Regions from separate parts of the Homo sapiens genome. Here regions 1 and 2 are each linked to region 3. The links come from fine-mapping of genetic effects on gene expression. A gene starts in region 3. Each other region holds a variant in brackets. All regions are shown on one strand. Distances are between the middles of the regions.

What was found. PIP is the estimated chance that this variant, and not a neighbour inherited with it, causes the effect.
Region 1: its variant is fine-mapped to the expression of ZNF586 in whole blood (INTERVAL, PIP above 0.99).
Region 2: its variant is fine-mapped to the expression of ZNF586 in whole blood (TOPMed, PIP above 0.99).

What each region holds. Positions count from the first base shown.
Region 1 is chr19:57,787,492-57,797,082 of GRCh38, forward strand. No RefSeq gene overlaps it. Among named protein-coding and RNA genes, the nearest start is that of ZNF586, 23 kb to the left of the region's middle. RefSeq lists a silencer at 1,905-2,051. The variant G/A (reference allele first, on the strand shown) is at 3,087.
Region 2 is chr19:57,819,113-57,830,300 of GRCh38, forward strand. ZNF587B (zinc finger protein 587B) reads left to right here and starts at 11,187. Exons shown (of 3, transcript NM_001376223.1): 1 at 11,187-11,188. It also overlaps the pseudogene FKBP1AP1. RefSeq lists enhancers at 568-797, 3,053-3,553. The variant T/C (reference allele first, on the strand shown) is at 5,300.
Region 3 is chr19:57,764,295-57,774,528 of GRCh38, forward strand. It overlaps ZNF586 (zinc finger protein 586), which reads left to right and starts at 5,382. Exons shown (of 3, transcript NM_017652.4): 1 at 5,382-5,584. The coding sequence starts at 5,549. RefSeq lists enhancers at 5,106-5,645, 5,367-5,616.

The DNA.
Region 1 (9,591 bases), 23 kb after region 3:
TGGGATTACAGGCGTGAGCCGCTGGTCTGGCCAGGCCTCCTAGGACTCTTAAGTGCAATTTCTCCTGTCCTTCGATCTGGGGATCTTGCAAAATCCTCAAACCCCAAACCTAAGTCACTGACACAGGCTATGGAGAAGTGTTTTCATGTCTGTCGACCGGTGGGAAACACATGTGGTGGATTAACCCAGGAATGATACTGGGATGTGGAAATGGCTTAGAAGTGAAACTGGAGAGGCCGGGCGTGGTGGCTCTCGCCTGTAATCCCAGCACTTTGGGAGGTCAAGGCGGGTGGATCGCTTGAGGTCAGGAGATCTAGACCAGTCTGGCCAACATGGTAAAACCCAGTCTCTACTAAAAATACAAAAATCAGCTGGGCATGGTGGCGGGTGCCTGGAATCTCAGCTACTCGCAGGCTGAGGTGTAAGACTCCCTTGAACCTGGGAGATGGAGGCTGCAATGAGCCAAGATTGTGCCAATCTGCACTCGAGCCTGAGCAACAAAGTGAGAATCCATCGCGAAAAAAAAAAGAAAGTGAAACTGGAGGGGGTTAAATGATGTTACCAGTGTTTTAACAGGTTCTGTCTGGTTACAGAGTGGACAACAGACTGTGGGGTTGAGGGAGGAGGAAGATCAAACTGGAAGCTACTGCCCTAGTCCAGATGCTCAAATCCTGACAGTCTTTTCCCTGACCAGTCTCCATCCTGAAGTTATCTAGGGGTTACCAACCATCATTCAACTCATTACCATTCAAAGTCACTTATAAATTTGAGAGTTTCATGAATTTTAGGAGTTCCATGCCAGGAAAGGAGATGACCAAATATATATTTCACAATACCACAGCCATGTTAAGATTCTGAAATGTAATAGATAATACTTAGTGGAGCTATCAAATGGGCACCTAAACCCATGGATGCAAATATCTGGGGAAGGGTTAATATTGGAGCTATCCAATATATGGTAGCCACTGTGTGGAGCAAGATGAGTGAGTCATGGATCACATTTGGAAGGGGCAACCTTCAGATTATGGTGGTGACACTACTAGGAAGACAGGAAGTGGAGGTTGGGTTGCCTGCTTGTGTACCTGGTGATGGTATTGTACTTCAGAAAACAGGTGAGGGAGGTAAATGGCCATGAAGGGAGAATATATCTGGTAGCCTAGTTTGGCAGGTGACATAGGCTTCCAAGGAATGAATAGACATGAGATGCAAGCAGAAGCATAGGAGTAGCTGAGGGAAGATGACACTCAGCCTGGACCTTGTGCTAATTCGCCACTCTGTGGCCACACCACGATATTGAGATGACTTTTGTGGGGCCTGGGGTGTTTCATTCAGCCTGGTGGATATGGAGGCAAATAAGGTCACCTTGTGAGAGTCACTAGGCCCGAGATTGACGGCCAATGGGTCTAGGCTTTGAATGGAGTTAGGTGGACAGAAGAAAGTCATAATTTCTGAAGATAACAAATGCAGCACAGAAGTGGAATAGGGCCATGAATACCTGAAAACACTAACGTTCTTTTTTCCTGTGGATTTATGCATGGAGGGCTTCGTATAATGACTTGGTACTACCACTGCTATTAGGAACCATTGGAATTCTGTGATAATTTTGGATTGCTTTTTAATTCACCAAGACTACTGTGGATGATGTCAGCCACATTATGGTGTGAGCCCTAAATTTAAGGTCAATATCATGTGCTACCTTCATATCTGGTGATACTAGTATTACCTCAAATGGTCTGAGTACAAATCCCCCTTCCCACTCTGCTCTTTTGTATAATGTGTCCTAGCCTAACTACCCTTTTAATCAAGAGGACTAAGCAGAGTTCCTGTTTATTATTTATTTGTAGCAAGTTTGAATTTCATTTCTACACACAGAGTTAATTCAAACAAGCCAGTTACAGCTGGGTGTGGTGTCGCACACCTATGGTCCCAGCCACTCGGGAGGCTGAGGTAGGAGGATCCCTGAAACCTGGAAAGTTCAGGCTGCAGTGAGCTGTAATTGCACCACTACGCTCCAGCAGGAGTGACAGAGCGAGACCCTGTCTCAAAAATTAAAAACAAGCCAGTTGCATCCTTTCAAGGGAATCAGGGGCTATCACACCTTCTTGATTCAGAAAAGCTTACATACCACAGTCCCTGGTTGCTCTCTCTTATGCATAGTGCAACCCCCATGTGGCTATCTGTGGTGAGTGGTGTCCTCTTCTCTCAAGTTGTGAGCATATTTGATTAATTAACTTTCTTGATGACTTATGTTCAGCATCAGGTGTTGTGTGTTTGGCCATCACTATAACCCTAGGGTAAGACTCCTACCCTTATCAGTAGAAGAAAGGGGGAATAAAATACTTTAACTTCTGGCAAGGCCAGAGAGAGGTCTATGGTGTGGGGGAGTTAGGTGTTGGTGGCAATTGACATGTGTCTTTGGTGTCCAAAGATGGGAAGGATGTATAGGTACACAGGGATTATGTTTGAAGGTTCTTAGGCACTGCATTGGGATTCATGTGACCTTTGCTATACCAGGGGAATTGCTAGAAAGGAGGGGATGGAACCCCTTATTTCAGGATCACAGCATAGATATCTATTTGTTTATCTGCCTCTTGTTGCTGATGGCTATGTGTCATGATCAGTGGTCCCATGAGGACACAGTGGCACTAGTGGGCAAAGTTTCTCCTCTGAGTTGGGGATCCTGGGAGAAGGAGGATGGGCAAGGGTAGATATGTTGGGGAAGTGGATTGTGGGTCTTCAGCACAGGGGCCATTTATGGTTTCATCTATCCCCATCATAACAGAGCAGTGTGACCTTTGAAGACGTGGCTGTAAACTTTTCCCTGGAGGAATGGAGTCTTCTTAATGAGGCTCAGGGATGCCTGTACCATGATGTGATGCTGGAGACCTTGACACTTATATCCTCCCTGGGTAAGGTACTCATACTTAACTGTGACCTGAGTTAGTCTCTGCCCCTCCCCTTTATTCCTCTTGGTAATAACGTCTTTCTCACATCAGGACTGTGGCACAGCTTCATTCTCCAATTCTCTGGATCAGTTCTGTGGTTGGTAGTACTGAGATACATGTACTGCCCTCTCCTTTCCTTGA[G/A]CAGCCCCAGTCTGCTTTGTTGCAGGCTCCCAGGGAAAGAGTTAGGGTCAGGAGTCTTAAAGTCACCCTAATGCATCCCACCTTGGTTGTCTTCTGCCTTTCTGGGTGACTGTGCAGATCTAAGACTTCTTTTTTTGAGACGGAGTCTCGCTCTGTCGCCCAGGCTGGAGTGCAGTGGCGCAGTCTCGGCTCACTGCAAGCTCTGCCTCCCGGGTTCATGCCATTCTCCTGCCTCAGCCTCCCGAGTAGCTGGGACTACAGGCGCCCGCCACCACGCCCGGCTAATTTTTTGTATTTTTAGTAGAGACGGGATTTCACCGTGTTCACCAGGATGGTCTCGATCTCCTGACCTCGTGATCCGCCCGCCTCGGCCTCCCAAAGTGCTGGGATTACAGGCATGAGCCGCCGCGCCCCGCCCCCATTGCATTTTTCAGCCTGCCTGTGTCCCTTGCCAGACTTATGTGACTGCCAGTTATCTTGCAAAAAGCATTTCACCTTTACCACTTGGCAGGTACTCACAGTTTCATCACTCCCCTACCTCATTATGATCCAGACGTAACTTTTTCTTTCATTCACCAGGGGGATTTTTTAGTATCCTCAGTACTCATTCCATTCTCAATTCTTTGTGTCTGATGAGGTAGGCCAAGGACCTGACTAATTTTTGGTGCAGAGAACTCTTCTGGTGATTTGAAAAGATGGACTACCTTTTTCAGGGATCTCTTGGATCTCACAGGATTCTTTTTTTTTTTTTTTAAGATGGAGTCCCGCTCTGTCACCCATACTGGAGTGCAGTGGCGCAATCTCGGCTCACTGCAAGCTCCACCTCCCGGGTTCACACCATTCTCCTGCCTCAGCCTCCCAAGTAGCTGGGACTACAGGTGCCCGCCACCACGCCCGGCTAATTTTTTTTTTTTTTTTTTTTTTGTATTTTCAGTAGAGATGGGGTTTCACTGTGTTAGCCAGGATGGTCTCGATCTCCTGACCTCGTGATCCACCTGCCTCAGCCTCCCAAAATGCTGGGATTATAGGCGTGAGCCACCGTGCCCGGCCCTCACAGCATTCTTAAGATAGAATTTTCCAGCCTGCCAGTCACAAATCAGACAGCCTGCCTGCCGCCTATTTCCCTTGTTTGTATTATAATAAAGACTCTGCTGCTTAAGACACCTTCAATCTTGAGAGCTGTATTTACAGTGTGGAATTGTTTGAACACTGGATTTGCAGATGGGCATGGTGGCTCATGCCTGTGATACCAGCACTTTGGGAGGCCGAGGCAGAAGGGTCAGTTGAGGTCAGGAGTTCCAGACCAGCCTGGCCAACATGCTGAAACCCCATCTCTACTAAAAATACAAAATTAGCCAGGCATCGTGGCATTCGCCTATAATCCCAGCTACTTGGGAGGCTGAGGCACAAGAATCACTTTAACCTGGGAGGTGGAGGCTGCAGTGAGCTCAGGTAATGCCACCCCATACCAGGATGAGCAACAAGAGCGAAACTATCTCAAAAATACCATAATTTTGGGGTTCATAGGTCAACCTGAAAGGGTGGCAGTTTTCATCACAATCTCTGGTGCTTCTGAGAGCAACATGAAATTGTTCTCTACTTCACAAGGGATGGTGCATTATGTTTCAGTGCTGTTGAGGGTACCTTCACAGGTTGTGAGGTTATAGTGGAAATGATAAGTTTTTCGGAATTACTGCATTTTAAAAGGGCTTCTACTATGATCCAGACATGGCTGTGAAGGATGAATACAAACAGAAATTCTCAGGACCTTCTTAATTGAATCTTATGTGGCTAAGGTCACTGCTGGAGAGAATAACCTAAAGATTTTGTTATTTGTGGTAGTCCTTCTAGTCTAATTGACCTAAAGGTCATTCCTGCATAGGCAGGAGGAAGAAGAAAGGGAGCAGGGATGTCCATTAGACCACTACGTGGCCCATCATGTGACCAGCCGTCATTCTTTCTGAATCATCTGGAAATGGTCTTTATTGTTCGTCATGTTTTTGTTACCATGAAGGCTAGTTGCCTCACTCAGGTTGAGGAGATGATACAGCAATAGTTAATAAACCTCTTGGAAAAATCAAGTCCAGATTTTTAAAATTACATTTTTAAAGCTGTAATAAGAAATAAATCACTTTTTTTTTTCTTTGAGATGGAGTCTCGCTCTTGTTGCCCAGGCTGGAATTCAGTGGCACGATCTTGGGTCACTGCAACCTCTGCCTCCCAGGTTCAAGCGATTCCCCTGCCTTAGCCTCCCGAGTAGCTGGGATTACAGGCACCTGCCACCATGCCCAGCTATTTTTTGTATTTTTAGTAGAGGTGAGGTTTCACCATGTTGGCCAGGCTGTTCTCAAACTCCTGGCCTCAGGTGATCCGCCCACCTCGGCCTCCCAAAGTCCTGGGATTACAGGCATTAGCCACCATGCCTGGCCAAAATAAATGACTTTCAAAAAAACTGCACATATTTATTTTTATTTATATTTATTTATTTATTTGAGACAGAGTCTGGCTCTGTCGCCCAGGCTGGAGTGCAGTAGCACAATCTCAGCTCACTGCAAGCTCCGCCTCCTGGGTTCATGCCATTCTCCTGCCTCAGCCTCCTGAGTAGCTGGGACTATAGGCGCCCACAGCCACGCCCGGCTAATTTTTCTATTTTTAGTAGAGACAGGGTTTCACCGTGTTAGCCAGGATGGTCTCGATCTCCTGGCCATGTGATCCGCCTGCCTCGGCCTCCCAAAGTGCTGGGATTACAGGCATGAGCCCCCGTGCCTGGCCAAAACTGCACATATTTAAACTGTAAAGTGTGATAAGTTTTGACATTAATAAGCCTGTAATATGATCCATCACCTTCATATTTACCTGGAGTCTGGTAACGTCTTTACCTCTGCCTTCCAGATGACCATTGATAACTTTGCTTTATAATAGATTATTTTACATTTTCTACATTTTTATACGTGATTTGATGTCGTGAAGTGTTTAATCTTTATCCCTGGATGGTATCGTGCGGTATATTTATTTTGAGATTTGTCAGTGATGATACTTGAGTAGTTCACTCCTTTTTATATTGCTGAGATGACATGCTATGAAATATCACTGTATATTCATTCATCTGTTTATACATCATTAATCTATTTCTCATTTTTGGCTTCCATAAATAAAACTACAGACACTTTAGTACAGTTCTTTATGTAAATATGTTTCTTTTTTATGTGTTACTATCTGGGGGTTCAATAACTGAATCAGAATAGGTAAATCTATAGCTTTTTGTTTGTTTGTCTGTTTTGAGATGGAGTCTCGCTCTGTCACTCAGGCTGGAGTGCAGTGATGCAATCTCGGCTCACTGCAACCTCTGCCTCGTGGGTTCAAGCAATTTTCCTGGCTCACCCTCCGAAGTAGCTGGGACTACAGGCACATGCCACCATGCCCAGCTAATTTTTTTGTATTTTTAGTAGAGGTGAGGTTTCACCATCTTGGCCACGCTGGTCTTGAACTCCTGACCTCGTGATCTACCTACCTCAGCCTCCCAAAGTGCTGGGATTATAGGCATGAGCCACTGCATCCAGCAAATGTATAGCTTTTTAGGCAACACCAAAGTGTACTGTAAAATTAATATGGTTGTTCCCTTTAGTGTTACTGTCACCAGTGTCCATGAATTCCACTTTCATGTTTTTATCGATACAGAATATGGATAGTCTTTTTTTTTTTTTGAGACAAAGCCTCTCTCTGTCGCCCAGGATAGAGTGCAGTGGCGTGATCTCGGCTCACTGCAACCTCCGCCTCCTGAGTTTGAGCAATTCTTCTGTCTCAGCCTCCCTAGTAGCTGGGACTACAGATGCATGCCACCACGCCCGGCTAATTTTTTTGTATTTTTATTAGAGACAGGGTTTCACCATGTTAGCCAGGAGGATCTTGATCTCGTGATCCACCTACCTCAGCCTCCCAAAGTGCTAGGATTACAGGCGTGGGCCACCACACCCGGCCAATTTTTTGTATTTTTAATAGAAATGGGGTTTCACCCTGTTAGCTAGGATGGTCTCAATCTCTTGACATTGTGATCTGCCCGCCTCAACCTCCCAATGTTCTGGGATTACAGGTGTGAGCCACCGTGCCCAGCAGAGAATATGGATAGTCTTTTAAATTTTTACCCTTTTTTATAAGTGGATGTTCCTTCTTTAGTAAAATGTCTATTTATATATTTTGCTTGCTTTTTAAATTCTTATTTATTTTTAGAGAAAAGATCTTGCTCTGTCACCCAGCCAAGAGGGCAGTAGTTTGATCATAGCTCACTGCAACCTCAACCTCCTGGGCTCAAGCGTCCTCCCACCCCAGCCTCCTGAGTAACTGGGACTACAGGCACATGCCAGCACACCCACCGAATTTTTAAATTTTTTTGTAGAGACAGGATCTCATTATGTTGCTCAGGCTGGCCTTAAACTCCTAGGCTCAAGCAATCCTCTCACCTCACCCTCTCAAAGCACTATGTCTGGCAACTCATTTTCTTCTTCTCAAATGTATTTTGCCTATTTCCGTTTTCATTAAGAAATAAAATATGGTTGGGCCAGTGGCTCACGCCTATAATCCTAGCACTTTGGGAGGTCGAGGTGGGTAGATCACCTGAGATCAGGAGTTCAAGACCAGCCTGACCAACATGGTGAAACCCCATCTCTACTAAAAATACAAAAATTAGCCAGGCATGGTGGCGGGCTAATCCCAGCTACTCGGGAGGCTGAGGCAGGAGAATCACCTGAACCTGGGAGACAGAATTTGCAGTGAGCTGAGATGGCACAACTGTACTCCAGCCTCAGCAACAAGAGCAAAACTCCGTCTCAAAAAAAAAAAACAAAAAAAAACCAGGGGTCACATCATTGACCCTTCTCTCTCTCTCCCTCACCTACAACATGCAAAGATCTACTTGTTCCTTTATTAAAAATATAGGTAGAATGTCTCCTTTTCTCCCATCTGCACGGCATTCACCTGGTCCATCAACTCATCTGAATTATGCTGGTAAACTTCCCTCCGTGCTAACTGCCTCCTCATTAATCCAGGAGTCTGTTCTCCTCCAGTGTGCAACCAGATAGATCCTATGAACATCTGGATTAGACCACCTCTTTCCCCATCCAAGCATCCCAGCATCTCCAAAACAGATGCCCAGCTTTTCAGGCAACCACATTACAGGCCTGAATCTTGACCCGGCTTCTTGTTCCTATGAGAAAGAATAGATGCCTGTCGTACATAGGTCCCAGCTCAGTCACACCTCAAAGCATTTGCACAAAATGGTATGAATTCCTAAAATAGCTTTCTACACCTGTTTCCATTGGTTGCCAGAAATAAGAACACTTCTATTAATCCTTGGCTGGTACTCAGGACTCTGAGCTTGGTGTATCCACAGGTTCTCCACGCCAAGAACTGGGAAAACATCAAGTGAACACTCAAGACACCATAATCTCAGACACCACACAGGTAGTGTCAGGTTCAGGGAGAGACTGGGACACTTTCTCTTTCCCTGTGTTGGCACCATAAGCATTTTCAGTGTTCAGAACCCATGAAAATAAGGCAACTGTGACCAGCTCCAGCTGATCAAACCTCCATTGATCCCTACACAACCGTAAAGCCAGGGGCCCTGGGGCTAACTAATTAACTGATTTCAATCCTCAGTGCTCCTTCTTACCACCTATGGCCTAGAAAGAAGACTCCACTTCTCAGTGCCTCATTGTCCTCATCATCCTTATTCCAGTCTGTTCTCTGAGAGGCTTTTGTAAACTTTTAAAGTTCTACCAAGGACATGACCCTCTTCTGTTCACAAATCTCCATACATCCCAGGACACTCAGATTGAAGGCACAACCCCTAAGACAACCAATACAGGTGTGACTCTGGCTCATCTTCAGTTTTTACTAGGGCCTTTTTTTTTTTTTGAGAGACGGGGTCTCACTATGTTGCCCAAGCCTGTCTTAAACTTCTGGACTTATGTGATCATGACACAACATGGTTACCAGGTTCTGAAATGTTCATGGCTCAGATGCACCTCCAAGCCTTTGCACCTATTGGTTCCTCTACCTGTATTACTCTACCTGGGGTGAAGCCTGTAATACACAGCATTTACCTGAGCTAGGTCCCTCAGTGTGGCTGCTGCCATCAACTGTGGGTGGAGTAGGCATCACCCCAGCCAGTGCCTATGAGCCTCAGACCTGCCACTTGGGAGCAGAGATGACTACTCCTCTTGTGCCTTCTCAGTCCCAACCCAGTACTCCCTGGCCTGACAAGCATGCCCAGAAATCCCTCATCCTGGGCCTTGCAACTAGCACCTTCTGGGTAAAGTACTTCTCAGAGCTCTCAGCCAACAATGGTGGTATCCTCCAAGAGCAAACCGAATGCAGACCATGTTACACTCTGAGGGCTGCTGGAAAGCCCTGCTCACACCTCAAGGGAGGAAGACTATTGATTCTTTGTAAAAGCGTCAAATAGGTATCACATAAGACTCTAGGAAGCTCATCCTGCACCCAGAGAATA
Region 2 (11,188 bases), 55 kb after region 3:
ATTCTTGAGTGATTAGTTACAGACACTAGTCTCCAGGAATCTCAATACGGCTTCTAAGGCTAGGTGAGACCCCTCCTCTGCCCTAGAAAGGCGCCTTTTTTTTTTTTTTTTTTTTTTTTTTGAGACAGAGTCTTGCTCTGTCGCGCAGGCTGGAGGGCAGTGGCGCGATCCCAGCTCACTGCAAGGAGGTTCACGCCATTCTCCTCCAGCCTCAGCCTCCAGAGTAGCTGTGACTATAGGCGCCCGCCACCACGCCCAGCTAACTTTTTTTTTTTGAATTTTTAGTAGACACGGGGTTTCACCGTGTTAGCCAGGATGGTCTCGATCTCCTGACCTCGCGATCCGCCCGCCTCAGCCTCCAAAAGTGCTGGGATTACTGGCGTGAGCCACCGCGCCCGGCCTCAGGGCGCGCTTTTAAGGAGAGTTCCTGACATGACGGTGGGCTTTTCCTGCAGATGCACCTCTGGGTAGCGCCCTCTTTACAGCCTTGAAACCTGGTCAACTACATTACTCAGAAAGCTCTGCGTTGAATGAATGCCGTCAGAGCCAATGAGGGCTCGGAAAGAAGCATTTCCGTGTGTGCGCCTAATGTAGGGCCGAGACTTCCGGGGTCCTCTTGTAGCGGCCACGTTGATCTGCGATACGCGTGTTTGCCCAGTGAGTGGCCCCGGACTGCTACGTGGGACTGCGGTGAATGAACCCAGAAGGTGGAGAGGAACCGTTCTCGGTGCACAGAGGCGGCTCTGCAGCCCGGTGAGGGCGCCTGCTGCTCCCGGGCAGTGCTTTCCCCAAGTAGTCCGATGGCTGCGGCTGCGCCGAGGCGCCCTACTCAGGTAATTGTGGCGTTTTCTGTGCCCTCAGGTCACCTCATCGTCACCCAGGTCCTAAACCAGCGAGGGAGAGGCTCCTGCTCACGGGTCTGTAGCCGGTACCCGGCGTAGGGACACTGAGGCGCTGGCAGGAGGGGTCCCTGTGTAAACGTCCAGTGGATTCACCTTGCCAGCTGCCTAGAGAGAGCCGATTTGTGAAGACAGGGGAATTGTAAGGAGAAATAGTAATTCACGCAGAGCCGGCTGTTCGGGAGACAGGAGTTTTATTATTATTCAAATCAGTCTCCCCGAGCATTTCTGGATCAGAGTTTTCAAAGTTAATTTGGCGGGTAGGGGCTTGGGAAGTGGGGAGTGCTGAACGGTCAGGTTGGAGATGGATTTATAGAGGGTTGAAGTGAGTTTTTCATGCTGTTTTCTGTTGTGGGTGGGATGGCAGAACTGATTGACCCAGATTACCGGTCTGTGTGTTGTCAGCTGATCCATCCAGTGTAGGATCTCCAAAATACCTCAAGCACTGATCTTAGCTTTTACAATTGTTATGTTATCTTCAGGAGCAACTTGGCGAGGTTCAGACTCTTGGAGCCAGAAGCTACATGACCCCTAAACGGTAATTTCTAATCTTATAGCTAAACTGTTAGTCCTGCAAAGGCAGGCTGGTCCCCAGGCAAGAAGGGAGTCTTTTCAGGAAAGGGCTGTTATCAATTTTGTTTCAGAGTGAAACCATGAACTGAATTCCTTCCCTAAGTTAATTCAGCCTGTGCCCAGGAATGAACAAGGACAGCTTAAAGGTTAAAAGCAAGATGGAGTCGGTTAGGTCTGATTTCTTTCACTGTCATAATTTCCTCAGTTATAATTTTGCAAAGACGGTTTCACCTGTGTTTGACATCAGTGCGATGCGGTGGGGAGAGCAACAGGCACAGGGAGGGGCCTAGGCGATGGTCTGGAGATGGAGGCAGCTGGGAGGATGGAACCTGGGGTCCACAGGCACCTGTCGGGAACAAAGTTTGAGGCAGAGCTACTCCTGGAAGAGCACACAGGCTGAGGGCTGTGCATTCATCATGAGGACACTAGAAGCCATGGAGAGTTTTGAAGAAAGGAGGGACATGATCCAAATCCAGGCTTTTAAGATTTCCCAAAGGCCAATCAAAGGAAGAACATTGTAGAGAGAGAGGATGAGGACTTTGGGGCCTTGGGAGGTTGAATCCTTTTTGTAGCTCACATAGGTGGTAGAGATGACATTTTGCACTGAGACAAGCAGGTCAGACAACCAGCCTGAGTGCCACCTGGCTCCAGGGACAAGAAAGGGTTCAGGGAGGCCTGAGCTTATCAAATCCCGTGACATGTTTGTAATGTCTGCCTCTCCCCTCAGGCACTCCTGGCTGCAGAAGCACTTAGGGAACCCACACAGGAAAGTGGAGGGTGTTCAATCCCCTCATTGGTCCTGACGCCATCTACAGGTTCTCTAGCTTGTGGTGTCCTGGGACTCTTAAGTGCCATTTTTTTCAGTCCTTTGATCCGAGGACCCTGGAGAATCTCTGAAGCCAGGATACCAAGTCCATGACAGGTTATATGGAGGTATTCCCATTTCTGTCAACCAATGTAAACACCCTTGTAAGATTAACCCAGGATTTGCTACCAGGTTGTGAAATGCTTAGAGATAAAACGGATCAAAGTCAGGAGGTGATATTACCACAGTTCTACCTGGCTACAGGCTTCATCTGGTTGGACCTTGTTGCATAGACTGTGGGTTGAGGGAAGAGGAAGAAAGGTCAGAGATAAGGCTCCTGCCATAATCTAGGTGAGGCTTAATGGATCAGATATGTGGTAAATCACATGGGTCTGGATTCAGGATTCACTTTTTGTAAAAAGACAGCTAGGTTTTCTTTCTTTCTTTCTTTCTTTTTTTTTGAGACGCAGTTTCGGTCTTGTCACCCAGGCTGGAGTGCAATGGCATGATCTCTGCTCACTGGAACCTCCGCCTCCCGGGTTCAAGTGATTCTCTTGCCTCAGCCTTCCGAGCAGTTGGGATTCCAGGCATGAACCACCACACTTGGCTAATTTTTGTATTTTTAGTAGAGACGAGGTTTCACCATGTCGGCCAGGCTGGTCTCGAACTCCTGACCTCAGGTGATTCACCTGCCTCGGCCTCCCAAAGTGCTGGGATTACAGGCATGAGACACCGTACCTGGCAGACAGCTAGGTTTTCTCTCTCTCTCTTTTTTTTTTTTTTTTGAGACGGAGTTTGCTTTTGTTGCCCAGGCTGGAGTGCAATGGCGTGATCTCAGCTCACCGCAACTTCCGTCACCCAGGTTCAAGTGATTCTCCTGCCTCAGCCTCCCCAGTAGCTGGGATTACAGGCATGCACCACCACCCTGGCTAATTTTGTATTTTTAGTAGAGATGGGGTTTCTCCATGTTGGTTAGGCTGGTCTTGAACTCCCGACCTCAGGTGATCCGCACGCCTCAGCCTCCCAAAGTGCTGGGATTACAGGTGTGAGCCACCGTGCCCGGCCGACAGCTAGGTTTTCTAATGTGGGTGATAAGAGCATGAAAGAGGAATTGGGCATGAGCCCAAGGTTTTTGATCTTTGCAGCTGTAACCATGGACGCTGCATCTGCTGACATGAAGTTGGTATTGACAACAATATTCACTGTGGATAGCAAGAGGGTTGTTTTGGCCATATGAAGAATCAGAGACCAATAAGTGGTGGCATCAAATGGATAACTAGACATACAGGATGGGATATCTGGGAGGGTGTTGATAATGGAGACATCCAATATATGAAAGCTAATGAGCGAACTACAGTAAGTTAGTTATGGGTCCATTTAGGAGGACATGCTTCAGATTTTGGTGGTAAATCTTTTCAGGGGCCAGGAAGGTGTGACTACAGGCTGAGGAGTGGATCTCTTACTTACGTCCCTGAGTGATGTTATTGGGCTTCCTAAACACCTGAGAGGGTGTGAGTGACCATCATGGCAGGATGTATCAGACAGTAGAGTTTGGAAGGGGACATAGACATCCGAGGAGAGAATAGACGAGATAGATGCATGCAGAAGCATAGGAGTAATTCAGGGAAGATGACACTTAGGCCTGAGTTGGTGCCAAAGTTGTAACTATTTATCACTGTCTGGACTCACAAACGTTTTGAGATGACTTTGGGAGTGCCTGGGGAGTTTCATTCAGCCTGGTGCATATGGGCAGTGAAAAATATGCTCATCTGTGATAGTAGATGTGGTTTGGTTCACAAATCCAGGGGCTGGGCTTTAAACGGCATTAGGTGGACAGAGGAGGGTTGCTACAGCTGAGGTCTCAGCTGGTGCAGCACAGAAGTGGAATAGGGCCATGGATATCTAAAGCCATATGTGGTTCTGTGTGGCTATGGAGTCATTCCGGGAGACATTCACAGGATGATTTGGGATTACCACTGCTATTGTAAACCATGGAAATTCTGTGTTAATATTGGATGCTATTTGTATTTGTCAAGCATAGTCTGGATGTTTATCCACATTTTGGTATAAGGCCAGAATTGAAGGCCCAATATGATGTGTCACTTTGACATCTTGTGATAGTGGGACAACCTTAAAAGGTGTGAGCACAAATCTCATCTCATTCCCACTCTGCTCTCTTGAATAATGTATCCTAGCCTAACAACCCTTTTTATCAAGGCAATGAGGCAGGGTTCCTCTGGGGGAAAGAAAGAGAGATCAGACTGTTACTGTGTCTATGTAGAAAAAGGAAGACATAAGAAACTCCATTTTGACCTGTACTAAGAAAAATTATTCTGCCTTGAGATGCTGTTAATCTGTAACCCTAGCCCCAACCCTGTGCTCACAGAAATGTGCTGTATTGACTCAAGGTTTAATGGAGTTAGGGCTGTGCAGGATGTGCCTTTGTAAACATGTGTTTGCAGGCAGTATGCTTGGTAAAAGTCATCGCCATTCTCCAGTCTCGGGTACCCAGGGACACAATGCACTGCGGAAGGCCGCAGGGACCTCTGCCTGAGAAAGCCTGGGTATTGTCCAAGGTCTCCCCCAACTGAGACAGCCTGAGATGTGGCCTCATGGGAAAGGAAAGATCTTACTGTTCCCCCAGCCTGACACCTGTAAAGGGTCTGTGCTGAGGAGGATTAGTGAAAGAGGAAGGCCTCTTTGCAGTTGAGATAAGGGAAGGCACCTGTCTCCTGCTCATCCCTGGGCAACAGAATGTCTCAGTGTAAAACCCAATTGTATATTCCATCTACTGAGATAGGAGAAAACCGCCTTAGGGCTGGAGGTGAGACATGCTGGAGGCAATACTGCTCTTTAATGCATTGAGATGTTTATGTATCTGCACATCAAAAGCACAGCACTTTTTTCTTTACCTTGTTTATGATGCAGAGACATTTGTTCACAGGTTTTCCTGCTGACCCTCTTGCCTCTATTACCCTGTTGTCCTGCCACATCCCCCTCTCCGAGATGGTAGAGATAATGA[T/C]CAATAAATACCGAGGGAACTCAGAGACCAGTGCCATCAGGGTTCCTCCGTATACTGAGCCCCGGTCCCCTGGGCCCACTTTTCTTTCTCTATACTTTGTCTCTGTCTCTTATTTCTTTTCTCAGCCTCTCATCCCACCTGATGAGAAATGCCCACAGGTGTGGAGGGGCAGGCCACCCCTTCACTCTCTCAGTTATTTTTATTACACCAGTAATTTCCTCATTGTGTTGAATCTTACAGTGGCTTATAAATCGATATGTACCTAGAAATGTTTAGCCAGTTCATGTATATTTGATGTATCACATTTTTTCCTTTGAATCACATACTCTAAAAGAAGTAACTTCCTCTTACTAACCTCTGCTTTTCCTAAGTGATGAATTAATCCTCTTTAGATAATTACAATTCTCTTTTCAACACTTAGCAAGAACTAATCTATAAAGAAGCACTATAAATCTATAAAGAACTTTCCCACCCGGGCACAGTGGCTTTGGTTCAACGCTTCTCCACCTTTTGGCTAAGATCAAGTGTGAGATGGAGTTTCGCTCTCATTGCCCCATCTGGAGTGCAATGGTGAAGTCTCAGCTCACTGCAACCTCCGCCTCCCGGGTTCCAGTGATTATCCTGCCTCAGCCTCCGGAGTAGCTGGGATTACAGGTGCCTGCCACCACACCTGGCTACTTTTTAATATTTTTAGTAGAGACAGGGTTTCACCGTGTTGGTCAGGCTGGTCTTGAACTCCTGACCTCAGGTGATCCACCTGCCTAGGCCTCCCAAAGTGCTGGGATTACAGGCATGAGCCAGTGTGTCCGGCCCCCAGCATCATTTTCTTCAGAGAATATTCGAGGAATCTTTTTATGGCTTGGCTTCCTTTTTTTTTTTTTTTTTTTTTAATTTGAGATGGAGTTTCGCTCCTGTTGCCCAGGCTGGAGTGCAATCAATGGCACGATCTCGGCCCACCACAACCTCTGCCTCCCAGTTCAAGCAATTCTGCCTCAGCCTCCCGAGTAGCTGGGATTACAGGCATGCACAATCATGCCCGGCTAATTTTGTATTTTTAGTAGAGACCAGGTTTCTCCATGTTGATCAGGCTAGTCACGAACGCCCAACCTCAGGTGATCCACCCACCTTGGCTTCCCAAAGTGCTGAGATTACAGGCGTGAGCCACCGTGCCCGGCAATGGCTGGGCTTTCATTGGGTGTGAAGTCTACAAACAGCATCTTCAATTTAAACTGTCAGTTAAAGTTCTTAAGATTTAGGAAATGATGGAGCTTGGAAAGTTATGAGATTACAAAATTCCGGAAAGTCCATTAGAAAAACCACAGGATGGAAAAAAAAATAAGCCAGGCAACAAAGCTTCAGAGGTCCCTGCTGGCCCAGGGAGAGATACCTGCAGTGTCCAGCATCTCAGTGAACATGATCTACTTTCAAAGGCAGGGGCTTAAAGCGAGGGAAGGGGGGGAACTGGTGGAAGCAAAGGCTCTCCCCATCACCACCTTGGTTTTAGGTAGGGATTTTAATTTAACTGAAGGACATCTCTCAACTTGGACAATAATTAATCCCTCAACAGCACCTCATATCTGCTATGACTTTGCAGCGCAGCAGAAAGAATGTTTAGTATCTAATAGATAAAAATTTCATCGAAAAAATTAAAATATTCTTGCAACACCCCCCCAACACCAATTCCTATTCTAAAGTGAATCTATCACTTGTGCTGTTGATACTTGACCATGTACTTAATTGGAAACCTAGATGCAAAAGACTGAAACTGAATCTTCACCCCAAAATGAAAACAAAATAAAATGAGTAACTTGAGGTTTATGGCATATAGTTTAGGTAAACACACACACAAGGAGAAGGGGGAAGAGGAAATGGAAGGTGTCGGAAGCAAAGCTGAGTGACAGAACACATTCAGTCAGGGCAGATGTCTATACAGAGTGTAGTGGAACCTCAGGAAAAGCTTCATATGGATTCATGCGCACGCGTCTGGAGGCACCAGATCCCTCCATGGCAGATCCAAGAACAGGGAGCTGAGGGAGAAGGCCATTCCCTTCATTCCAGTTTTAGGAGCTCCACATCGAAGACGAGAGTGGCGTGTGGTGGGATGATGCCTGGGTGCCCAGTGGCACCGTAGGCAGAATCTGGAGATATAGTCAGTTGGGCTGTCTGACCCACACTCATCTAAGCAACCCTTTCTTCCCAGCCTCGGATCACCTCCTGCTAAAAATTAAGGGGCTTGTTTCTGTCCCGGGAGGAATCAAATTTCTTTCCATCTTCAAGCATCCCGGTGTAGTGCACCACGCAGGTCTGGCCGTGCCTCGGGAAGGTGCACTCCTCTCCTGGGGAGATGGTTTCCACCTGCACTCCCATGGCGGCGGCCGATGCTGGGTGGGCGGGTAGCGCGACGGGCGGTGTGGACCAACAGCGACCTGGCGGCGGTTCCACAGCTCTGGCTAGACCCTTGGCTTTTATTTATTTATTTATTTATTTATTTTTTGATACAGAGCCTCTCTTTGTCACCCAGGCTGGAGTGCAGTGGCACGATCTTGGCTCACAGCAACCTCTGCCTCCCGGATTCAAGCGATTCTCCTGCCTCAGCCTCCCCAGTAGCTGGGATTCATGCCCAGCTAATTTTTGTATTTTTAGTAGAGACGGGGTTTCACCATGTTGGCCAGGATAGTCTGTAGCTCTTAACCTCGTGATCCCCTCACCTCTGCCCAGAGTGCTGGGGTTACAGGCGTGAGCCACTGGGCCCGGACTTTTTTTTTTTTTTTGGCCAGGCGCGGTGGCTCACACCTGTAATCCCAGCACTTTGGGAGGGCGAGGCGGGCGGATCACGAGGTCAGGAGATCGAGACCATCCTGACTAACATGGTGAAACCCTGTCTCTACTAAAAATACAAAAAATTAGCCGGGCGTGGTGGCGGGCACCTGTAGTCCCAGCTACTCGGGAGGGTGAGGCAGGAGAATGGCGTGAACCCAGGAGGTGGAGCTTGCAGTGAGCCGAGATCATGCCACTGCACTCCAGCCTGGGCGACAGAGCAAGACTCAAATCAAAAAAAAGAAAAATCGACCCCTGACCTAATCAGTAATGTTATACAGATTACAAACATTATATAGAAAAGCATTGTGAAAATCCCTGTCCTGTTCTGTTCCGTTCTAATTACCAGTGCATGCAGCCCCCAGTCATGTACCCCCTGCTTGCTCAATCGATCACGACCCTCTCACACAGACCCCCTTAGAGTTGTGAGCCCGTAAAAGGTACGAGAATTGCTCACCTGGGGAGCTCAGTTGTTGGAGATGTGAGTCTTGCCGAAGCTCCCAGCTGAATAAAGCCCTTCCTTCTTTAACTCGGTGTCTGAGGGGTTTAGTCTGCAGCTTGTCCTGCTATACCTACGATTTCATCTCCAACCCAACCAATCAGGACTGCCCACTTCATGGCCCCCTATCTACCAAATTATCCTTAAAAAACCCCAGTCTCATGAGGTGGAGGTTGCAGTGAACCGAGATCATGACCTTGCACTCCAGCCTGGGCAACAGGAGCAAAACTCCATCTCAAAAAAACAAACAAACAAATAAACAACAACAAAAAAACCCAGTCTCCAAGTTTTCAGGAAGACTGATTTGAGTAATATTAATAAGACTCCAGTCTGCTGTTCATCCAACTCTGTGTGAATCAAACTCTTTCTTTTACAATTCTCCTGTCCTGATAAATTGGCTCTATCTGGGCAGTGGGCAAAATGAACCCGCTGGGTGTTTACACATTCATTTTAACAATACAATAATGGTTATTAACCTTTGCATTAATCTCTGCTTCCAGTGGAAGAATTTTGCATCAAAGGACCACTTGAAATGATAGGTGAATTTAGATCTATAGCCTTTGGGAGCACCTACACTAACTCTGAAATAATATTTTTCCATACACTAGGGTAATCAGCTACAGCTAATAATTGCAAGAAATCTCAATAGGAGTTTTAAGGAAAGGCAGGATGATCCTCTGCCCAGTAGAAAGATCTGCAATCTTTTATTTATTTATTTATTTAATTTTATTTTTTTCCAATACAGAGTCTTGCTCTGTCGCCCAGGCTAGAGTGCAGTGGCACAATCTCAGCTCACCGCAACCTCTGACTCCTGGGTTCAGGAGATTCTCCTGCCTCAGCCTCCTGAGTAGCTGGGATTATATGCATATGCCATCATGCCAAGCTAATTTTTGTATTTTTAGTAGAGGCGGGGTTTCACCATGTTGGCCAGACTGGACTTGAACTCCTGACCTCAGGTGATCCACCCGCCTCAGCCTCCCAAAGTGCTGGGATTACAGGCGTGAGCCACCCACACCCAGCCCTTATTTTTATTTTTTAGAGAAGAGGTCTTGCTCTGTTGCCCAGGCTGGAGTGCAGTGGCACGATCTCGGCTTACCGCAGCTTCAAACTCCTGAGCTCAAGCGATTCTCCCTCCTTCAGGCTCCCTAACCCTAACCCCAACCTTGGGGCAGCTGGGACCACTGGCCTGCCTGACCTCACCCCACTAATATTTTTTATTTTTTGCAGAGACAGGATATGGGGAAAAGAAATCAGATTGTTACTGTGTCTATGTAGAAAAGGAAGCCATAAGAAACTCCATTTTGATCTGTATTAAGAAAAATTGTTCTGCTTTGAGATGCTGTTAATCTGTAACTTTAGCCCCAACCCTGTGCTCACAGAAACGTACTGTATTGAATCAAGGTTTAATGGATTTAGGGCTGTGCAGCATGTGCCTTGTTAACAATATGTTTGCAGGCAGTATGCTTGGTAAAAGTCATCGCCATTCTCCATTCTCTATTAACCAGGGACACAATGCACTGCGGAAAGCTGCAGGGACCTCTGCCTGAGAAAGCCTGGGTATTGTCCAAGGTTTCCCCCACTGAGACAGCCTGAGATATGGCCTCATGGGAAAGGAAAGACCTTACATCCCCCAGCCGGACACCCTTAAAGGGTCTGTGCTGAGGAGGAGGAGTGAAAGAGGGAGGCCTCTTTGCAGTTGAGATAAGAGTAAGGCTTCTGTCTCCTGCTCATTCCTGGGAATGGAATGTCATGGTGTAAAGCCAACCATTCCCATTCGTTGTATTCTGAAATAGGAGAAAACTACCCTGTGGCTAGAAGCGAGATATGCTGGCAGCAATACTGCTCTGTTGCTCTTTGCTACACTGAGATGTTTGTTTAAAGTGAAACATAAATCTGGCCTATGTGCACATCCACGCACAGTACCTTTCATTGAACTTATTCATGATACAGATTCCTTTGCTCACGTGTTTCCCTGCTGACCTTCTCCCCACCATCACCCTGTTGCCCTGCCACACTCCCCTCACCAAGAGAGTAAAAATAATGATCAATAAATACTGAGGGAACTCAGAGACCGGCGCCGGTGAAGGTCCTCACATGCTGAATGTGCCAGTCCCCTGGGCCCACTATTCTTTCTCTATACTTTTTCTCTGTGTCTAATTTCTTTTCTCAGTCTCTCGTCTCCACCTGATGAGAGATACCCATAGGTATGGAGGGGCAGGCCCCCTTCAAACAGGATTTTGCTTTGTTGCTCAGGCTAATCTCTAACTCTTGGCCTCAAATGATCCTTCTGACTTGGCCTCCCAAACTGGTGGAATTACAGGAGCTAGCCACCATACCAGTCAGGGCGCATATCTTAAGGATACTCCTGAGGTGGAGCTGGGCTTTTCCTGCAGAACCGCCTCTGGGAATTGTGCCCTTTACCCTCCTTGTTACCTAGGGAACTACATTACCCAGAAAACTCCGCATGGAATGACAGAGTGGAAGAGCCATGGGGGCTCAGAATAAAGGCATTTCCTGTGTGCACGTGACAATGGGTCCGGACTTCCGGCGCCCTCTGGTGGCGGCCATTTTGA
Region 3 (10,234 bases):
GGTCATAAGCTGTCTACAGAAAAACTCCAGTTTTGCTTTATGAGCTATCTACAGAAAAACTCCAGTTTTGCCTTACAGAACTAAAATATTTGGAACAATTAATTCCTAGGGAGAAACTACAGATACATCTGGATTGAGTAACCGGACTTCTTGGATACCCTACTCCAAAAAGTAAAAGACAGCTTTGGCCAGGCACGGTGGCCCACGCCTGTAATCCTAGCACTTTGGGAGGCTGAGGTGGATGGATCACCTGAGGTCAGGAGTTCGAGACCAGCCTGACCAACATGAAGAAACTCCGTCTCTACTAAAAATACAAAATTAGCCAGGTGTGGTGGTGCATGCCTGTAATCCCACCTACTCGGGAGGCCGAGGCAGGAGAATTGTTTGAACCTAGGAGGCAGAGGTTTCAGTGAGCCGAGGTCGCAGCATTACACTCCACCCTGGGCAACAAGAGCGAAACTCCATCTAATAAACAAACAAACAAAAAAAAGACAACAGGATTTTAGGCTTGGCTGACTACTGTCATAGCTGGATGTCCAATTTTTCTCTAATGCCACAGACTTTATATGCATTGTAGAAAGATCAGCCTAACCTCATACACTGGACATCAGAAGGACAAATAATAAATAAAGAAAAATCTTACAAGCCCCCGCTTTGGCCCATGCAAATTATTAGCTGCTGTTTTTCCTTTCTTTGTTTTTTGCGATTTTTTGTTCATGTAAGGCATGGCAGTTCCCTGGGTGTTCTAATTGAAAAACCTGGAGGACAATGTAGGGCTATTGGTTATTATAGTCAGCAATTAGACCATGTAGTACATGGGTGACCTCTTTGTCTGAGGGCCATTTTTGCCACTGCCATGCTCCTTACGATTACTCAGAAAATTGTAATGGAGGCTCCTCATTCTATAGAAGCTCTTTTGAATTCACATAATACACAGCAATTTTCCATTAATAGATTGGTTTCTTATGACAAACTTACACTGTCTGCTTCATATGCTGCCCTCTCTATCTGTAATACTCTTAATCCTGCAGTGCAACTTCCTGAAACAACAGATGAAATATTTCATCACTGTATTCTACTCACAGAATTGGTGTCCAGACAGGATTTATAGGACACATCATGTAAAAATGTTGATATTATCTGGTTCACAGATGGATCGGATCTAAAGGATACATTTTGAAAATACTGAGCAGGCTACAACCTTGTGTCTCTTGTGGACATCAGAAAGAGCAATCCCACCGGGTGCGGTGGCTCATGCCTGTAATCCCAGCACTTTGGGAGGCTGAGGCGGGCGGATCACAAGTTCAGGAGTTCAAGACCAGCCTGGCCAATATGGTGAAACCCCGTCTCTACTAAAAATACAAACATTAGCCGGGTGTGGTGGCAGGCGCCTGTAGTCCCAGTTACTTGGGAGGCTGAGGCAGGAGAATCGCTTGAACCTGGGAGGCAGAGGTTGCAGTGAGCCTAGACTGCGCCACTGCACTCCAGCCTGGGCAACAGAGGGAGACTCTGTCTCAAAAAAAAAAGCAAAAAAAAAAAAAAGCCATCACTTGCCTCAAGTAAAATCAGCACAGCTAGCTGAATTAACAGCACTCACCAGTTTGTCAACTGGCCAAAAATCAAATGGATAATATTTATACTTAAAGGTATTATGCTATTGGTGTAGCTCATGACCTTGGGATGTTATGGAATCAGGCTTTTTTTTTTTGATACAGAGGCTTGCTCTGTTGCCCAGGCTGGAGTGTAGTGGTGCAATCTTGGCTCACTGCAACCTCCTCCTCCCGGGTTCAAGCAATTCTCCTGCCTCAGCCTCCCGAGTAGCTGGGATTACAGGCGCTCGCCACCACCCCCGGCTAATTTATTTATTTATTTATTTTTTAGATGGAGTCTCGCTCTGGCTGGAGTGCAGTGGCGCAAACTCGGCTCACTGCAAGCTCCGCCTCCCGGGTTCACGCCATTCTCCTGCCTCAGCCTCCCGAGTAGCTGGGACTACAGGCACCCGCCACGGCGCCCAGCTAATTTTTTGTATTTTTAGTACAGACGGGGTTTCACCGTGGTCTCTATCTCCCGACCTCATGATCTGCCCACCTCGGCCTCCCAAAGTGCTGGGATTAAAGGCATGAGCCACCATGCCTGGCCAATTTTTGTATTTTTAGTAGAGACAGGTTTTCACCATGTTGGTCAGGCTGGTCTCGAACTCCTGACCTCATGATCCGCCCCCCCACCCCCCACCCCCCCACTGTCCCCCAAAGTGCTAGGATTACAGGCATGAGCCACTGTGCCTGGCCAGTGAGGTTACTTAACCTCCCCCAGATATCTAATTAAACATGGCTCTCAAGTTTCTGATCATTTAGAAGCCATCCGATTATCAAAAAAGAATGTTTTATTAACGTTCCTGAACATTCAAACTCACCTCTCCAAAGAGTAAAAAAAAATTATTTCGCAGATGCAGCAGCAAAAAGACTCTCTTGACACCAATATCACATGAAACTATAAAAGTCACTACATTCAAAATAAGTGCCATTGAACAGGAACTCCAAGGGATTCAAAAAGAGGCTTCAGATAAGAAAAAGTAGATATGGCTAACAAAGCGGTAATGCTTTTCCCCCATTTACAAATTTTGGTGTGGACCCAACAGGAGACCCATCTTGCCTTTGAGATTTCAATTTCTTATGGTACAACATGTTTATGAGCCAACTCACGGGAAATCTGAGAAAATGATTGTTTGGGGAAAGAAATACTACTGGAAACCCTCACCTCCATTACTGAATAAAGTTTACACTAAATATCCAATTTAATTTATACAAAGCATAATCCAAGAAAGCTTTTTTTTTTTTTTTTTTTTGAAACGGAGCCTCACTCTGTCCTCTGTCACCCCGGCTGGAGTGCAGTGGCGCGATCTTGGCTCACTGCAGCCTCCGCCTCCTGGGTTCAAGTGATTCTCCTGCCTCAGCCTCCTGAGTAGCTGGGATTACAGGCATGCGCCACCACACCCAGCTAATTTTTCTATTTTCAGTAGAGACGGGGTTTCACTATGTTGGTGAGGCTGGTCTCGAATTCCTGACCTCGTGATCCGCCCACCTCTGCCTCCCAAAGTCCTGGGATTACAGGCATGAGCCACCGCACCCGGCCAACTTTTTTGTTTGTTTGTTTGTTTGTTTGTTTGAGACGGAGTCTCGCTCTGTCCCCCAGCCTGGAGTGCAGTGGCGTGATCTCGGCTCACTGCAACCTCCGCCTCCCGGGTTCAAGCCATTCTCCTGCCTCAGGCTCCGGAGTAGCTGGGACTACAGGCGCCTGCCACCACGCCCAGCTAATTTTTTTGTATTTTTAGTAGAGACGGGGTTTCATCATATTAGCCAGGATGGTCTCGATCTCCTGACCTCGTGATCCGCCCGCCTCGGCCTCCCAAAGTGCTGGGATTACAGGTGTGAGCCACCGCGCCCAGCCAACTTTTTTTTTAAGTATAGAAAATTTTACAGGTTGGGCGCGGTGGCAGGCGCCTATAATCCCAGCTGCTCGGGGGGCTGAGACAGGAAAATCACTTGAACTTGGCCAAGAGGCGGAGGTTGCAGTGAGCCGAGATCGCAGCAATGCACTCCAGCCTGGGTGACAGAGCGAGACTCCATCTCAAAAAAAAAAAAAAAAAAAGAGGTGGAGATTTCCCAGAACTGAGGTTCCCTCCCCTTTTTAGACTATATAGGGTAACTTCCAAACATTGCCAGGGCATTGGTATACTGTCATGGCGCTGGCGGGAGTTAGTATGCTAATGCATTATAATTAGCGTATAATGAGCAGTGAGGATGACCACAGGTCACTTTCATCACCATCTTGGTTTTGGTGCGTTTTAGCCAGCTTCTTTACTGCATCCTGTTTTATCAGCAGGGTCTTTGTGACCTGCATCTTGTGCCAACCTCCTATCTCATCCTGTGACTAAGAATGCCTAACCTGGGAATGCAGCCGAGTATTTCTCAGCCTTACTTTATCCAGCCCATTTTCAAGATGGAGTCACTCTGATTCCAATGCCACTGACAATGATAAGCACTTGCCAGCAAAGAGGTGAACGCATGGATTTAAGGCACTTGAAATATCTCAGTGTAAAAGCACCCTGTGCATGTAGCAGGACGAGCCGCAGACAAAACCTCTCAGACACCGAGTTGCAGAAGGAAGGGCTTTATTCAGCTGGGAGCATTGGCCAGCTACTGTCTCAAAATCTGAGCTCCCGGAGTGCACAATTTCTGTCCCTTTTAAGGGCTCACAACACTAAAGATTTCACATGAAAGGGTCGTGATTGATTTGAGCAAGCAAGGGGTATGTGACAGGGGCTGCATGCACCGGTGGTCAGGGAGGAACAGAACAGGGCAGGGAGTTTCACAATGTTCTTCTATACAATCTAAGGAATCTATGAATAACATCGGCTTCTAAATCATAAGTTGATTTTTAACTACTGGGTTTAGGCCAGGCGGGCCTAGGCCTGGTTTCGGGCCTGGCGCGGGGTTGCCTGTCTTTGGTTTTACTTCCTTGTTGTTTTTACTGAATATAAAACAATGTGAGAGGGTCTCTCTCTTCTCTCATGCATACATACTCCATGTTTGAACACCGCAGCCATTGTCCTGTAACATAATAGCATTTGTCTCATTAGCTTTTTGATGTTGATATCAGATTTCTAGAGGAATCTGTAGGTTAAAGATATAAATAAAAGTGTTGCTAATGGGCTGAGAACGGTGGTTCACGCCTGTAATCCTAGCACTTCGGTAGACCATTGCAGGCAGATCACTTGAGGCCAGAAGTTCGAGACCAGCCTGGCCAAAATGAGGAAACCCCGTCTCTACTAAAAATACAAAAATTAGCAGGGTATGGTGGCACACGCCTGTAATCCCAGCTACTCGGATGGTTGAGGCACGAGAATCGCTTGAACCCGGGAGGCATAGGCTGCAGTGAGCCAAGATCACACCACTGCACCCCAGCCTGAGTGACAGAGAGAACTATGTCTTAAAAAAAAGACAAAAAAAAAAAAAAAAGGAAGAAGCCGAGCATCACAAATTCTGAAATAAGAAGTCTCCAAACACGCGGGCAATCAGTTGCACACAGTACCCCCAGAAATGTGCGTATGGCCTCTTCTAAGATGGGAGACCCTCCTCCGCATCTGGACCTGGAGTCGCCATTTCCTAGCGCCCCTCGCAGTGGAGCTTGCCCCTTTCTTCGGAAAGTCGGAAGAAAGCCACCTTAAGCGCTGCCCATGTCTGGGAACTACATTACCCAGAATCCGCCCTGCGAAATGGTAACGTGGCTGAGCCAATGAAGCTTCAGAGAAGCCGTGCCATTGCCGGGGCACGTAAAGTCAAGCCAGGACTTCCGGCGTCCTAGCCGTGGCAGCCATTTTGGCCTGTCAGGTCCATCCGGCGATGCTGGGTCTGGACGAGCTCGGGAGGAGTGGTTGTGGCCATTGCACACAGGCGGATCTGAGGTTCGGCGACGCCGCTGGTCGCGACCCGGGACAGGACAACGACAGGAACACCGCCGAGCCCGCGTTCCCCCCCCGCCCAGAGTCATGGCGGCAGCAGCCGCTCTGAGGGCGCCTGCTCAGGTGAGCGCTGCGACCTCCGGGCCTTACCCACCCTACCCACCCAGACCCTGAGGCCCCTGATCGTGAGGGCCGCCTCCTCGCGTCCCTGCAGCCCAGGCCTCTGTCAGGGACGGAGAGGCGCCGGCGGGTGGGATCCCTGTTTCCGACACCCAGTTGATGCGGTCGGCAGAGCGAGACTGGCGGAGGGCAAAGGCCTGCAGGCGCGACTGAGGCAGGAGGATGCGGAACACGGGGACATCGTGTGTCTACTGGGAAAGAAGTGTGATACGGAGTTATTTCTTTTTTTTTTTTTTTTTGAGACGGAGTCTCACTCTGTCGCCCAGGCTGGAGTGCAGTGGCGCGATCTCGGCTCACTGCAAGCTCCACCTCCCCGGTTCAAGCGATTCTCCTGCCTCAGCCTCCCGAGTAGCTGGGATTACAGGCATGCGCCACCACGGGGTTTCACCATGTTGGCTAGGCTGGCCTCGAACTCCTGACCTTAGGTGATCCGCCCACCTCGGCCTCCCAAAGTGCTGGGAATACAGGCGTGAGCCACCGCGCCTGGCCGAGGCGGAGTTGTTTCTTCAGTACCAGGCTGAGGGTTGAACTTTGACTGTGAGGACGCTAAAAGCCATGGACAGTTTTGAACAAAGGAGGAAATCTGTGTTAGAGTTGCGATTCCCAAAAGATGTTCGAAGGAAGAACAGAGTTGAAGGCAGTGATGAGGACATTGAGAGGTTGAATCATTGAGAGGTGACATTGAGCACTGGGCCACAAGATTAGAGACTCAGTCTGAAGTCATCTGGCTGCAGGGCCAAAAAAAGCTTACAGAGAAGCCTGAGTCTATCAAATCCGAGCACAGACACATTTGTGAAAGCCCTGCCTTTTGGCACACCTCATGGCTACAGAAGCACTTACAGAATCCACAGTAGGAAGTAGGGGATGCTCTAGTCCTTCACTGGTCCTCATCCTATCCCACATGTCTAGATCTTGGCATCTTTTTTTTTTTTCGGCGACGGGTTCTCACTCAACACCCAGGCTGGGTTGCGGTGACGCGATCACGGCGCAGCACGGCCTCGACCTCTCCGGGCTCAGGAGAGCCTCTCATCTCAGTCTCCCGAGTAACTGGCTTTTTGTATTTTTAGTAGAGGTGGGGTTTCACGGCCGGGCGCGGTGGCTCACGCCTGTAATCCTAGCACTTTGGGAGGCCGAGGCGGGCGGATCACGAGGTCAGGAGTTTGAGACCATCCTGGCTAACACGGTGAAATCCCCCCTCTACTAAAAATACAAAAAATTAGCCAGGCCTGGTGGCACACACCTGTAGTCCCAACTACTTGGGAGGCTGAGGCAGGAGAATCGCTTGAACCCGGGAGGCAGAGGTTGCAGTGAGCCGAGATCGCGCCACTGCACTCCAGCCTGGGCGACAGAGAAAGACTCCGTCTGAAAAAAAAAAAAAAAAGAGAGAGAGAGAGATGGGGTTTCGCCATGTTGCCCAGGCTAGTCTCGAACCCTTGGGCTCAAGCAGTCCTCTTGCTTCGGCTTCCCAAAGTGCTGGGATGCCAAGCAGGAACTACCGCACCTCCTAGGACACTTAAGTGCCATTTCTCCGGTCCTTCAATCTGGGGATCTTGGAAAAACCTCAAACCCCAAACCTACATCAGTGACATAGGTTATGGGGAGTTGTTGCTATGTCTGTCAACTAATGTAACACATGTGGAGGGTTCACCCAGGAACTGATACTGGGGTGTGCAAATACTTACTTAGAAGTGAAACTAGAGGGGTGAGGTGATGTTACCAATTTCTTAATAGGCGCTGTCTGGTTACTGAGTGGGCAACAGACTGTGGGGTTGAGGGAGGAGGAAGATCAAACTGGAAGCTACTGCCCTAGTCGAGGTGAGGATTAATGGACTAGAGTTGTGGCTTAGGCAATGTGGCTAGATCTGGATTTGTGTTTTTTAGAGGGGCAAGTCAATTTTTTTTTTCCCAAGATGGAGTCTGGACCTGTTGCCCAGGCTGGAGTGCAATAGTGGAATCTTGGCTCACTGCAACCTCCGCCTCCTGAGTTCAAGCGATTCTCCTGCCTCAGCCTCCGAAGTAGCTGGGATTACAGGCGCGCGCCTCCACACCCAGCTAATTTTTGTATTTTTAGTAGAGACTAGGTTTCGCCATATTATCCAGGCTGCCTCGAACTCCTGACCTCGTGATCCACCCGCCTTGGCCTCCCAAAGTGCTGGGATTACAGGCTTGAGCCACCGTGCCCAGCCTGGCAACTCAATTTTTAAATGTGAACAGTGAGAGCTTGAGAGGATTCAGGAAACACCCCTGGGTTTTTTATCTTAGCAGCTGTAGCAATGGGAGCTGCATCAACTGAGATGAGCAAGTTGATAGCAGGTGTAATATTCACTGAGGCTATCAGGAGGTTTGTTTTGGCCATTCTGCGTGGAAAAAAATACAAATTGCTTTTGCTCTGCTCTCCCCCACAACAATCAACACAGAGTACTTCTGTGACTAGATAATGTGTGGATGGTTTTCCTCATACACCAAGTAGTTCTGCAGTGGACATCAGATCCCACAGGGTGAAGTCTCAGTCCCACGGGACTGTCCGCCAACCCCTTTCGATGCCAATCACAAGCCCCAGGATGTTTTTTTTTTTTTACCTGTCCTTTGACTGACTTGATAAAAATCAGGTTCCCATGACCCCTTCCTCGGCTTCCATTAAATTGCTAGAGCCAGTCACAGAACCTCAGGAGATGCTTTAATTTGCCAGTTTATTTTAAAGAGTATTTATTACAAAGGTTACAGATGAAGAGATGCATAAGGGGAAGCGACCCAGAGCTTTTATGATCTTCAGGCACACCACCATCCAGGAACTTCCATGTGTTTGGCTATTTGGAAGCTCCCCAGACCCTGTCTTTATGGGGTTTTATGGAGGCTTTATTACATAGGCATGATTAATTAAATCATTGGTCAATGCTGATCAGCTTAACTTTTGGCCCCCTCTCCCCTTTCTGGAGATTGGGGTATGGGGCTGAAATTTCCAGACCTCGAATCCTGACATAGTCTCTTTTCCCTGACCGGTCTCCATTCTGAAGTTATCTAGGGGTTTCCAACCATCAGTCAACTCATTGCCATTCAAAGTCACTTATAAATTTGAGAATTTCATGAATTTTAGGAGTTGCATGCCAGAAAAGGAGATGACCAAATATATATTTCACAATATCACACCCATATTAAGATTCTGAAATGTATTAGATACTACTTAGTGGAGCTATTAAATGGGCAGCTGGACACATAGATGCAAATATCTGGGGAAGCGTTGATATTGGAGGTATCTAATATATGGTAACTACTGTGTGGACTGAAATGATTGAGTCATGGCTCACATTTGGAAGGCACAACCTTCAGATTATGTTGATGACACTGTTGGACAGGAAGTAGAGTTTGGGTTTCCTGCTTGTGTACCTGGTGATGGTATTGGATTTGAGAAACACAGGTAAGGGAGGTAAATGGCCATGAAGGGAGGATACATCTGTTTCTTCTTCTTCTTTTTTTTTTTTTTTTTTTGAGACAGAGTTTTGCTTTGTCGCCCAGACTAGAGTGCCGTGGTGCAATCTCGGCTCACTGCAACCTCCGCCTCCTGGGTTCAAGTGATTCTTCTGCCTCAGCCTCCCGAGTAGCTGGGATTATAGGTGCCTGCCACCATGCCTGGCTAATTTTTGTATTTTTAGTACAGACAGGGTTTCACCATCTTGGCTAGGCTGGAAAGGGAGGATACATCTGACAGACTAGTTTGGCAAGTGACATAATGCTTCCAAGAAATGAATAGACTTGAGATGCATGCTGACGCATAGGAGTAGCTGAGGGAAGATGACACTCAGGCTGGAGCTTGTGTTTATTGGCCACTTTGTGGCCTCACCAAGATTTTGAGATGACTTTAGTGTGGCCTGGGGTGTTTGATTCAGCCTGGTGGATGTGGAGGCAAATATGGTCACCTTGTGAGAGTCACTATGCATGAGATTGATGACCAGTGGTTCTGGGCTTTGAATGGGGTTAGGTGGACAGAAGAAAGTCATAGTTGCCGGGCATAGTGGCTCACACCTGTGATCCCAGCACTGTGGGAGGCCAAGGTGGGCAGATCACGTGAGGCCGGGGGTTCGAGATCAGCGTCGCCAACATGATGAAAGCCCATCTCTACTAAAAATACAAAAAAAGTAGCTGACGTGGTGGCAGGCACCTGTAATCCCAGATATTCGGGGGCTGAGACAGGAGAATCGCTTGAACCTGGGAGGCAGAGGTTGCAGTGAACCGAGATTGTGTCATTGCACTCTAGCCTGGGTGACAAGAGTGAAACTCCGTCTCAAAAAAAAAAAAAAAAAAAAAGTCAGCCGGGCGCGGTGGCTCACACCTGTAATCCCAGCACTTTCGGAGGCTGAGGTGGGCGGATCACTTGAGGTCGGGAGTTGGAGACCAGCCTGACCAACATGGAGAAACCCCGTCTCTACTAAAAAATATAAAATTAGCCAGGCGTGGTGGCTAATGCCTCTAATCCCAGCTACTCGGGAGGCTGAGGCAGGAGAATCACTTGAACCTGGGAGGTGGAGGTTGCGGTGAGCTGAGATCGCGCCATTGCACTCCAGCCTGGGCAACAAGAGTGAAACTCCATCTCAAAAA